Regions from separate parts of the Homo sapiens genome. Here region 2 is linked to region 1. Evidence: fine-mapped expression QTL. Tissue or cell type: subcutaneous fat. Region 1 holds a variant in brackets; the other region holds the start of a gene. All regions are shown on one strand. Distances are between the middles of the regions.

The links. PIP is the estimated chance that this variant, and not a neighbour inherited with it, causes the effect.
Region 2: it holds the start of REEP2, and the variant in region 1 is the best candidate, but not a certain one, in a credible set for the expression of REEP2 in subcutaneous fat (FUSION, PIP 0.52).

Annotation. Positions count from the first base shown.
Region 1 is chr5:138,287,892-138,292,129 of GRCh38, forward strand. It overlaps CDC25C (cell division cycle 25C), which reads right to left. Exons shown (of 14, transcript NM_001790.5): 8 at 4,079-4,225; 9 at 2,748-2,849; 10 at 1,610-1,672. Among named protein-coding and RNA genes, the nearest start is that of GFRA3, 15 kb to the left of the region's middle. The variant C/G (reference allele first, on the strand shown) is at 1,648.
Region 2 is chr5:138,437,042-138,441,239 of GRCh38, forward strand. It overlaps REEP2 (receptor accessory protein 2), which reads left to right and starts at 2,016. Exons shown (of 8, transcript NM_001271803.2): 1 at 2,016-2,199; 2 at 3,975-4,047. The coding sequence starts at 2,168. RefSeq lists a silencer at 1,844-2,263 and an enhancer at 2,649-3,182.

The DNA of each region.
Region 1 (4,238 bases):
TCAATATATTAGAAATAACTTCAATATTCAATAATAGGGGTTTGGTAAAATAAATTGTACATGTCAGTAGAATAGAGCGGCATTATATAGCCATTAAAATGATAATATAGATACCTTATTGATATAGAAAGATGTCTATAATGTCTCACTAAGCAAATTGCAATACTATACGTTCATCATGATCCTTTTTTTTTGTTTTTTGAGATGGAATTTCGCCCTTGTTGCCCAGGCTGGAGTACAATGGTGCCATCTTGGCTCACCGCAACCTCTGCCTCCCGGGTTCAAGCAATTCTCCTGCCTCAGCCTCCCGAGTAGCTGGGATTACAGGCATGCGCTACCACACCCAGCTAATTTTATATTTTTAGTAGAGACGGGGTTTCTCCATGTTGGTCAGACTCGTCTCGAACTCCCAACCTCAGGTGATTCGCCTGCCTTGGCCTCTCAAAGTGCTGGGATTACAGGTGTGAGCTGTGCTAGGCCCATGATCCCATTTCTATAAAACATATGCTAGAATAAAATCTGGGGCTGGGCGCAGTGGCTCACACCTGTAATCCCAGCACTTTGGGAGGCTGAGGAGGGTGGATCACCAGAGGACAGGAGTTTGAAACCAGCCTGACCAACATAGTAAAACCCCGTCTCTACTAAAAATACAAAAATTAGTCGGTGTGATGGCTGGCACCTGTAATCCCAGCTACTTGGGAGGCTGAGGCAGGAGAATGACCTCCGGGAGGCAGAGGTTGCAGCAAGCCGAGATTGTGCCATTGCACTCCAGCCTGGGCAACAAGAGCGAAACTCCATGTCTAAAAATAAAATAAAATCTGGAAGGCCATAGGAAAATATGACTAGTGGTTATCTCTGGTGATGAGATTGTGGGTATGGTGACCAAATAATTTTTGTACAAACTGGGAGACTTTTGAGAATGAAAGCAAACACTATTAATAATTACCCTCACTAATAGATGAAAATGGGATTGTAAAATGTAAACGAGGGTGCATGGTCACCCTAATTGAGACCTTAATTGAGACCATTTCTTGTGTGTGATTTTTTATTTTCCTTTCTTTCTCCCTTTTTTCTTAAGTAATTATTATTTTTTGAGACAGTCTCGCTGTGTCGCCCAGGCTGGAGTACAGTGGCACGATCTCTGCTCACTGCAACCTCCCCAACTGGGGTTCAAGCAATTCTTGTGCTTCAGCCTCCCAAGTAGCTGGGATTATAGGCACACATTACCACGCCTGGTTAATTTTTTTGTATTTTTATTAGAGATGGGGTTTCGCCATGTTGGCCAGGGTGGTCTCGAATTCCCTGCCTCAAGTGCCTGAGATCTGCCTGCCTCAGCCTCCCAAAATGCTAGGATTTCAGGCGTGAGCCACCATGCCTGACCCCTCCCTTTTTCCCTTTTACAAAAACTATGTATCATTTGTTTAACTAAAAACGAAGGAGAGAGAAGAATGGGGAAAAAAATGAGTCCTTCAATATAACTTCAGTTGAATAAGGAGCCTGTGTGAGTGAACACAGTGAAAGAAATACAAATGGAAATGGGCATTTTAGGGACAGAAGAGACCAGATGGTAGCTTATGTAACCAGTTACCATCTCCAGAAATCTGCTTACTGTTTCTGGGTTGACATACTTCAGATCTTGGTGTTTCC[C/G]TGACACGGTTGGCAGCGCACATACCTAGAAATACACAAGAGCTGAAATAACAGCAAGTATTCCACACCCAAGTTTGAGATCAAAGACCCTTATTTTGTCCTTCTTTCCAAGTGACCCTTAAAACCCCAGAGGCCTTCAAAAAAATCAGTGTCTCTATAAAGTGCATATACATCAAGTCCATTTCTAAGAACTGATCCTAAAGAACAAATCAAGGATGTGTACGAAGTTTTAGATTTCTCTACAAATATATTCATCTTGGTATCATTCATAAGAAAAAATTGTAAAACCAAATATCTTACAAGAAGGGATTTATGAAGAAATTATGAGCAGCCAAAAAAAAAAAAAAAAGAAATAATATGGAGCTATTAAAATGAAATGGGCTGGGCATGGTGGCTCATGCCTGTAACCTCAGTGCTTTGGGAAGCCAAGGAGAGAGAGGATTTCTTGAGGCCAGGAGCTCGAGGCTGAAGTGAGCTATGATCATGCCAATGTACTCCAGCCTGGGCAACAGATCAAGACCTTGAATCTTAAAAAAAGAAAGAATGAAGCATAACTGCTTATTAATATGAAAAAAGATGCCCCTGATATAATTATTAAATGAGAGGAAAAACAACAGATAACAAAACAATATAAACTGTTTTTGTAGAAAAGCAAAAACTGTATTTGTATATGTGTTTGTGAAAACACAGAAAAAAATCTGTAAGAATATGTACCTTCTGCAATTACACAGACAGTAGGGGGGAAAAAAAGAGTATATACTAAGCAATATTACCCTGGTTAATAAAGTTTGGGATAAATTTCTTCATTTTCTACTTTTTCTGTAACAACCAAGTATTATTTACATAATTTTAAAATATGTTTTTAAACAGAAAAAAGGTAAAAAGTCTCATACTTTCCCCTGTTCTGGATCTTCCCAGAAGAATAAGAAATACTTTCTCTCTGGAAAGGCTTAGGGCCTGGATCTACCACTAGAGCACTGTCAGGTTACCAAAGAGTACTTGGTGAGGATGCATATTTACACCAGGCATTCTCGGCAAACAGAGAAGATTCAGATCCAAAATGACTCACTGAAATACAGGATGGGTGTAGCCAAACTCACCTTGGAAAAATCACCAATCAGGTGCCCCTGGTTAGAATCTTCCTCCAGCATCTGAGTGATAGTAATGTCACACAGAGAGACTGTCTTCTTTAAACATAAGCCCTGAAGATGACAAGATTCCCACCCCACACCCAATCCTCATGTTAAAGGTTTAAAAACCAGTGGATGGAGTGGGCCATGGTGGCGCACATCTGTAATCCTAGCTACATGGGAGGCTGAGGTAGGGAGATCACTTGAGCCCAGGAGGCCAAGGCTATAGTGAGCTACGATTGCACCACTGCACTCCAGTCTGGGAGACAGAGTGAGACTCCATTTGTTTATTTATTATTTTTAATAATAAATAAATATTGAGGCTGCAGTGAGTCAAGACCATGCCACTGCAATCCAGCCTGGGTGACAGAGTGAGACCCCATCTCAGGGGAAAATAAATAAATAAATAAATAAGTTGATTTTATAAAATATCCAAAGATTTTAGAATTTTAATTTTTTATTTTATTTTTTTTTATTAGAGATGGGGTCATGCTATATTGACCAGGCTGGTCTTGAACTTCTGACCTTAAGTGATCCTCCCATCTATTTAATTTTTTTAAAGTTGGGGAGGGTAAAGGACAAAGGCTAAGTTTTTCAGAAGTTGCTTTCCACAAAACCAACCTGCTATATGATGTTGTTTCTGTCAGACTGCATGTAAAACAGCAGTAAAATATCCATACCAAAGTTCCCTTGTATTCTTTCAGATCTTAAGAAAAAGGGTTGGGAAGACGGTATGATGACAACATTTCTCTTTTTTTTTTTTTTTTTGAGACGGAGTCTTGCTCTGTTGCCCAGGCTGGAGTGCAGTGGCACAATCTTGGCTCACTGCAACCTCCACCTCCCGGGTTCAAGCGATTCTCCTGCCTCAGCCTCCTGAGTAGCCGGGACTACAGGCACATGCTGCCACGCCCAGCTGATTTCTTGTATTTTAGTAGAGACGGGGTTTCACCGTGTTGCCCAGTCTGGTCTTGAACTCCTGAGCTCAGGCAATCCGCCCGCCTCGGCCTCCCAAAGTGCTAGGATTATAGGCGTGAGCCACTGCACCCGGCCTATGACAACATTTCTAAAAGTACAATATAGATATACTTTATGTATCTATGTTATATAAATATTTTATATATATATATATATTTCACGTGGATACAGATGTAGAAAAGACAGAAAGATGGAAAGAACAAAGAGGAAAAAGTAAAAGTAAAGAGGAAGAAGACAAAAAAGGCATAATAAAACAATCCTCATACCAGAAAAGCAAAGACATGAGATAGAAGATGAACAAGATTTTCATCTTAAAAAGTTCTTACCTTCCTGAGCTTTCCTTGGCCAGAAAAATACTTTTTTTTAACTTTATCTGGTATTGTGTTGTCCTTGAATTTTTCCACCTGCTTCAGTCTTGGCCTGTTCAAGTTCTCTGGCATCGACGGGGAGCGATATAGGCCACTTCTGCTCACCTGTTTGGGAATA
Region 2 (4,198 bases), 150 kb after region 1:
AATTATTCGTGTACCAACCCTTCTAAAATCAACATCAGATTGGGAGTTGGGTTGGAGGTGGGGGATTCATTTCCAGGTCTTCATGACTGTGCTACACCCAGATATTTTTCTTTGCTTGTTGAGACTGTGCCATGTTAGAAAAAAGGAAAGTGCCAGGGTGAGGTCAGTATGGTTTGGGGAATTGGGGGTAAGGGGAAGGGGCCACATGAATTAGAGGGTAGAAAGAGAGACATGTTTCCCCATACTTTATGCTTTGTGAATGGAGTGGGAAAGTTGGGGTCCTCCCTTCCTGTGGCAGAGTCTGGGGGGAAGGGTCATGGTGTGTGGCCTCAGCAAAGTTGGACAGTCTGTGGTGGGATTCTTAAGCAGGCAGCCTGGCTGCCTACATGAAACGTGTGGCCATAGATCCACCTTAGAGATGGTGGGAGACACTCATGTGGGATTTATCAAGCAGTAATTAAAGTGTTTCATTGTGGGGTGATAACAGACTGCATTCCAATTAGGAGATGTTTTCTGGAGAGGAAGTTGTAAAGAATAGCAAGAGGGGTTATCAGAGGCTGCTTTTCTGGAACGTTTTGGGAAACATCTTCCAAAGTGTTTGAACCTGGAAATATAATTTACCAGGTTAGAAATAGACCATTGTGTTGTTCAGGGATACTGAGCTTGAATAAGACCATGACTCTTTGAAATACACAGTTCTGAATGTGTCCTTTCAGCCCAGATGGGCACAGGTTGATGCTGTGGTCACCCGAAGGATTACAACTCAACATAAAGGGTAGAGGAATGCAGAAGCTCTAAAATGGGACAGGAAAGGAGAGCAATAGGGCTGGGGGTGTTGGTGGATGGTTGGAGGTTGGTTGCTTTCCTGAAGATCAGGAGGCAGGCTAGCCTACATTCTGGATATAAATGTCTTTAGAATCAGGACATTCACTGCCACTAGTGCTTGCTGATGGGGGTGGAACTGGAGCCCCAGGACCCTCTCGCAGCCCCTCTGTTTGAAAAGAAGGTTGACCCTTTGTTGTCAGTAACCACATTGAGAGCATAAAGCTCTGTTCCGCTGCAAAGCTTAGGAGCTGACAACCTAAAAAAGCAGACCAGCAGCCCGGTGGCTCACACCAGTGATCCCAGCACTTTGGGAGGCTGAGGCGGGTGGATCGCTTGAGCTCAGGAGTTGGAGATCAGCCTGGGCAATATTGCAAAACCCCATCTTGGCAAAAAAAAACAAAAAACAAAAAAACAGGAATTAGCTGGTGGTGTTTTGGGCCTGTAGTCCCAGCTACTCGGGAGGCTGAGGCGGGAGGATCATTCAAGCCCAGGAGGTGTGCTGAGATTGTGCCACTGCACTCCAGCCTGAGCGACAGAGTGAGGACCTGTCTCAAAAAAACAAAACATCATCTGGTCAGGGGAGATCCTCTTTCAACGGGGTGAGAAGGAGTGGGGTGGACAGGTGCGGCTGTACCTGTGACTCAGGAGCTCAGGTGGATGTCTTCAGGGCCTGTAATGAGGAGAGTTTGCTAGTCAGCAGTTGGGGGATGTAACCTGTTTAAAGTAGGCTTCCTGGGGTCATCTTAGCAGCATGACTTGGTGGCTTTGTGACTCTCAACAGATTATTGAGCCTTAAGCTTCTCATTCCCTTATCTTCAAAATGAGGGCTTTTATAGCGCCTGCCTTATAGGGTGGTCAAGAGGATTCACTGGCAACGCAGTGAAGCTCTTAGCACAGGGGCTGGCACACAGTAAGCGCCTGGTGTGGGCAGGGCAGGAGGTGGGCAGGGGTCGATTTCAGGATGTAACCATGGAGACCTCCACGACAACAGCCTAGGGCTTGAAACCCAAGAAAGATGAACAAGCGATTCGAGGAAGGCAGGGCACTGAGGGTCGGAGGCGCATGCCCGGCCACAGCAGGTGCCGGGGCGGGGGCGCGCCGCCGCCGCCGCGGCGGCCTCCCGGCCTCCCCTTTAAGAGCCGCCACCGCCCACGGCCCGCCGCTGCGGCAGGGACCTCCCCTTTAACGGCGGCGCTGGGCGCTCCGCTGCCCCCGCGGCGGCTGCTGCAGCGGCTGCTGCTGCTACTGCGGCTCCTGCTGCCGCCGCCGCCGCCGCTCGGCCTCAGGCAGCTGCATCCTCGGCCGGGCCGGGTCCCCGCCCCGCGCCGCGCCCGGCCCCGCCATGGTGTCCTGGATCATCTCTCGCCTGGTGGTGTGAGTGCGGCGGCGGCGGGGGGTGATGCGGGCTGTGATGGAGGGCGGGGGTGTTAAAGCCCGGGTGGACTTCTCCGAAGCTTCGTGCAGCAGAGTCACCTAAAGGCGCTGCGTCCTTATTTGGGGCCCCCAGAGACATGGAGATGTGGCACCCAGGACTGGAGGGGGGAATATTAGGGGAGCGTGGCAGGCCTGGCTTCCCAGGGACCTCACCCACATTCTTTATTAATAACCTCTTTTATTTCTACCGTCCTTGCTCCTGCGCCCATCCTAGAGGCTGAGCAGCACGGCTTGATTTAAAAGGGGAGGCAGGCGCGTCCCCTCCCCCACCTAGCAGGTCTGGGCTGGAGGAGATCCTCAGACCCGGGCCCTGTCCCTCTGGGGGAGGTAACAGGGTGATGGAAGAGAGTGGAGCAAGGCAGGGCCTCATCATCATTCCGCAGCTCAGAGCCATCACCAGGCCCCTTGGTCTCTCCCTTCCACTCACTGTCAGGAGACTGGGGACGAGGGCATATGCCCTTAGGCCCCCTAGGGAGGAAGTCTGGGTATCGGGAAGCAGAAATGCTCGGAGGACAAAGTGTGAGAGGTAACTGGGAGAGGGGATGTGTGTGCTCAGCCTGGGATTGTGGACCCCGCTGGGGGAGGACGCTCCGTGGCCTTCATTCCAGGCTGCCAGCCACACTGTGGAGCTGTGTCTCTGGCACCTCCCCGGGCCCCAGGAGGGAACACACACCATTCCCCACGAGCCCAGACTTTGTCCTTGAGGATTCTGCTCCGCACTCCACTTGCACCAGCCGGTTTGGAAGTATCCCTCCTGTCCATGTGGAAACAGGCGACAGCCACACATTGTCAAGGGGCTGAGCCTGACAGGGGCTCCTCGTGGTTCTCGGAGCTATCCCCTGCCCTAATGAGGACACTGCCCCTCGGCCTCCACCGTTGGGGACTGACACCGGCAGCCCCACCCTGCTCCCTTCTTCCCATTCGGTACAGCCGGGCCGGCCAAGTGCTTCTGTCCTGGTTTACTCTAGACTCCTTCTCTTCCCCCACCCATCCCAGGGGGAATGGAGGGGCCTCACGCCTCCATGTGGCCTTCAGGGTGGCTGCTTCTCTCTTGCCTGGGCAAGCCCCAAAGGGCATCGGTCCTCTTCTTTCCCGGCCTGTGTCTTGTCTGCATTCTGTACTTGGATCACCAGCGGGGCCCTCCCCTGAGCCCTGTCCCTGTGGTGTTTACATGGGGGAATAAGCCTCTTTGCCTCTCTCAGGGCCTCCTGCCCCTGTGCCCTCTGTTCCCTAGGGCCCCAGGGCCACAGTGGTACCTCTGCCTGCCAGGTAGGGTGCCCTGTTAGGTGGTGTCAGGTTCCCTCGCAGAGCCTGGCTCTGAGGGAGGTGGAGGGTAAGGGCAGATGGGTGTGAATGGGCATGAGGTCAAGAAGGAAGACACCCTGTGGCAGTGACCTGACTCCCAGTCTCCATGACATATTTGTGTGTAACCAAGGATCATGGCGCAAGGGACTACATTGGACCCTCTGGCCTCTGGGCCTTTCCCTGCCTCCGGGGCTAGAGAAAAACTGAACAGTGGAGCGGGGAGGGGGCATCACCCTACCTGGCTGGGCATGTTCCATGCTGCTTTGACCTTAACCCCTGACCTGAGTTCATCAGTCCAGCGGGGAGTTCTGTCTCTCTTCCCATTACTTACCCAGGGGCTGATGCGGAGCTGGGAGGGAGAGGCCACTGCCCTTGGCTGAGAGGCCCAGTAACCATGCCTGCCTCCCTAGGCTCATCTTTGGCACCCTGTACCCAGCCTATTCTTCCTACAAGGCCGTGAAGACAAAAAACGTGAAGGAATATGTGAGTGGATGACCCTTCACCCCCTACCCAACCCACATGGCACAGAGAGGGGAGGGCACTGGGTCCTATTACAGATGGGGGTGACTTTGCACCAACACTGTCAGCCACTAACAAGACCCACCAGCAAAGGAGGGCCCTGGGTGTCCCACAC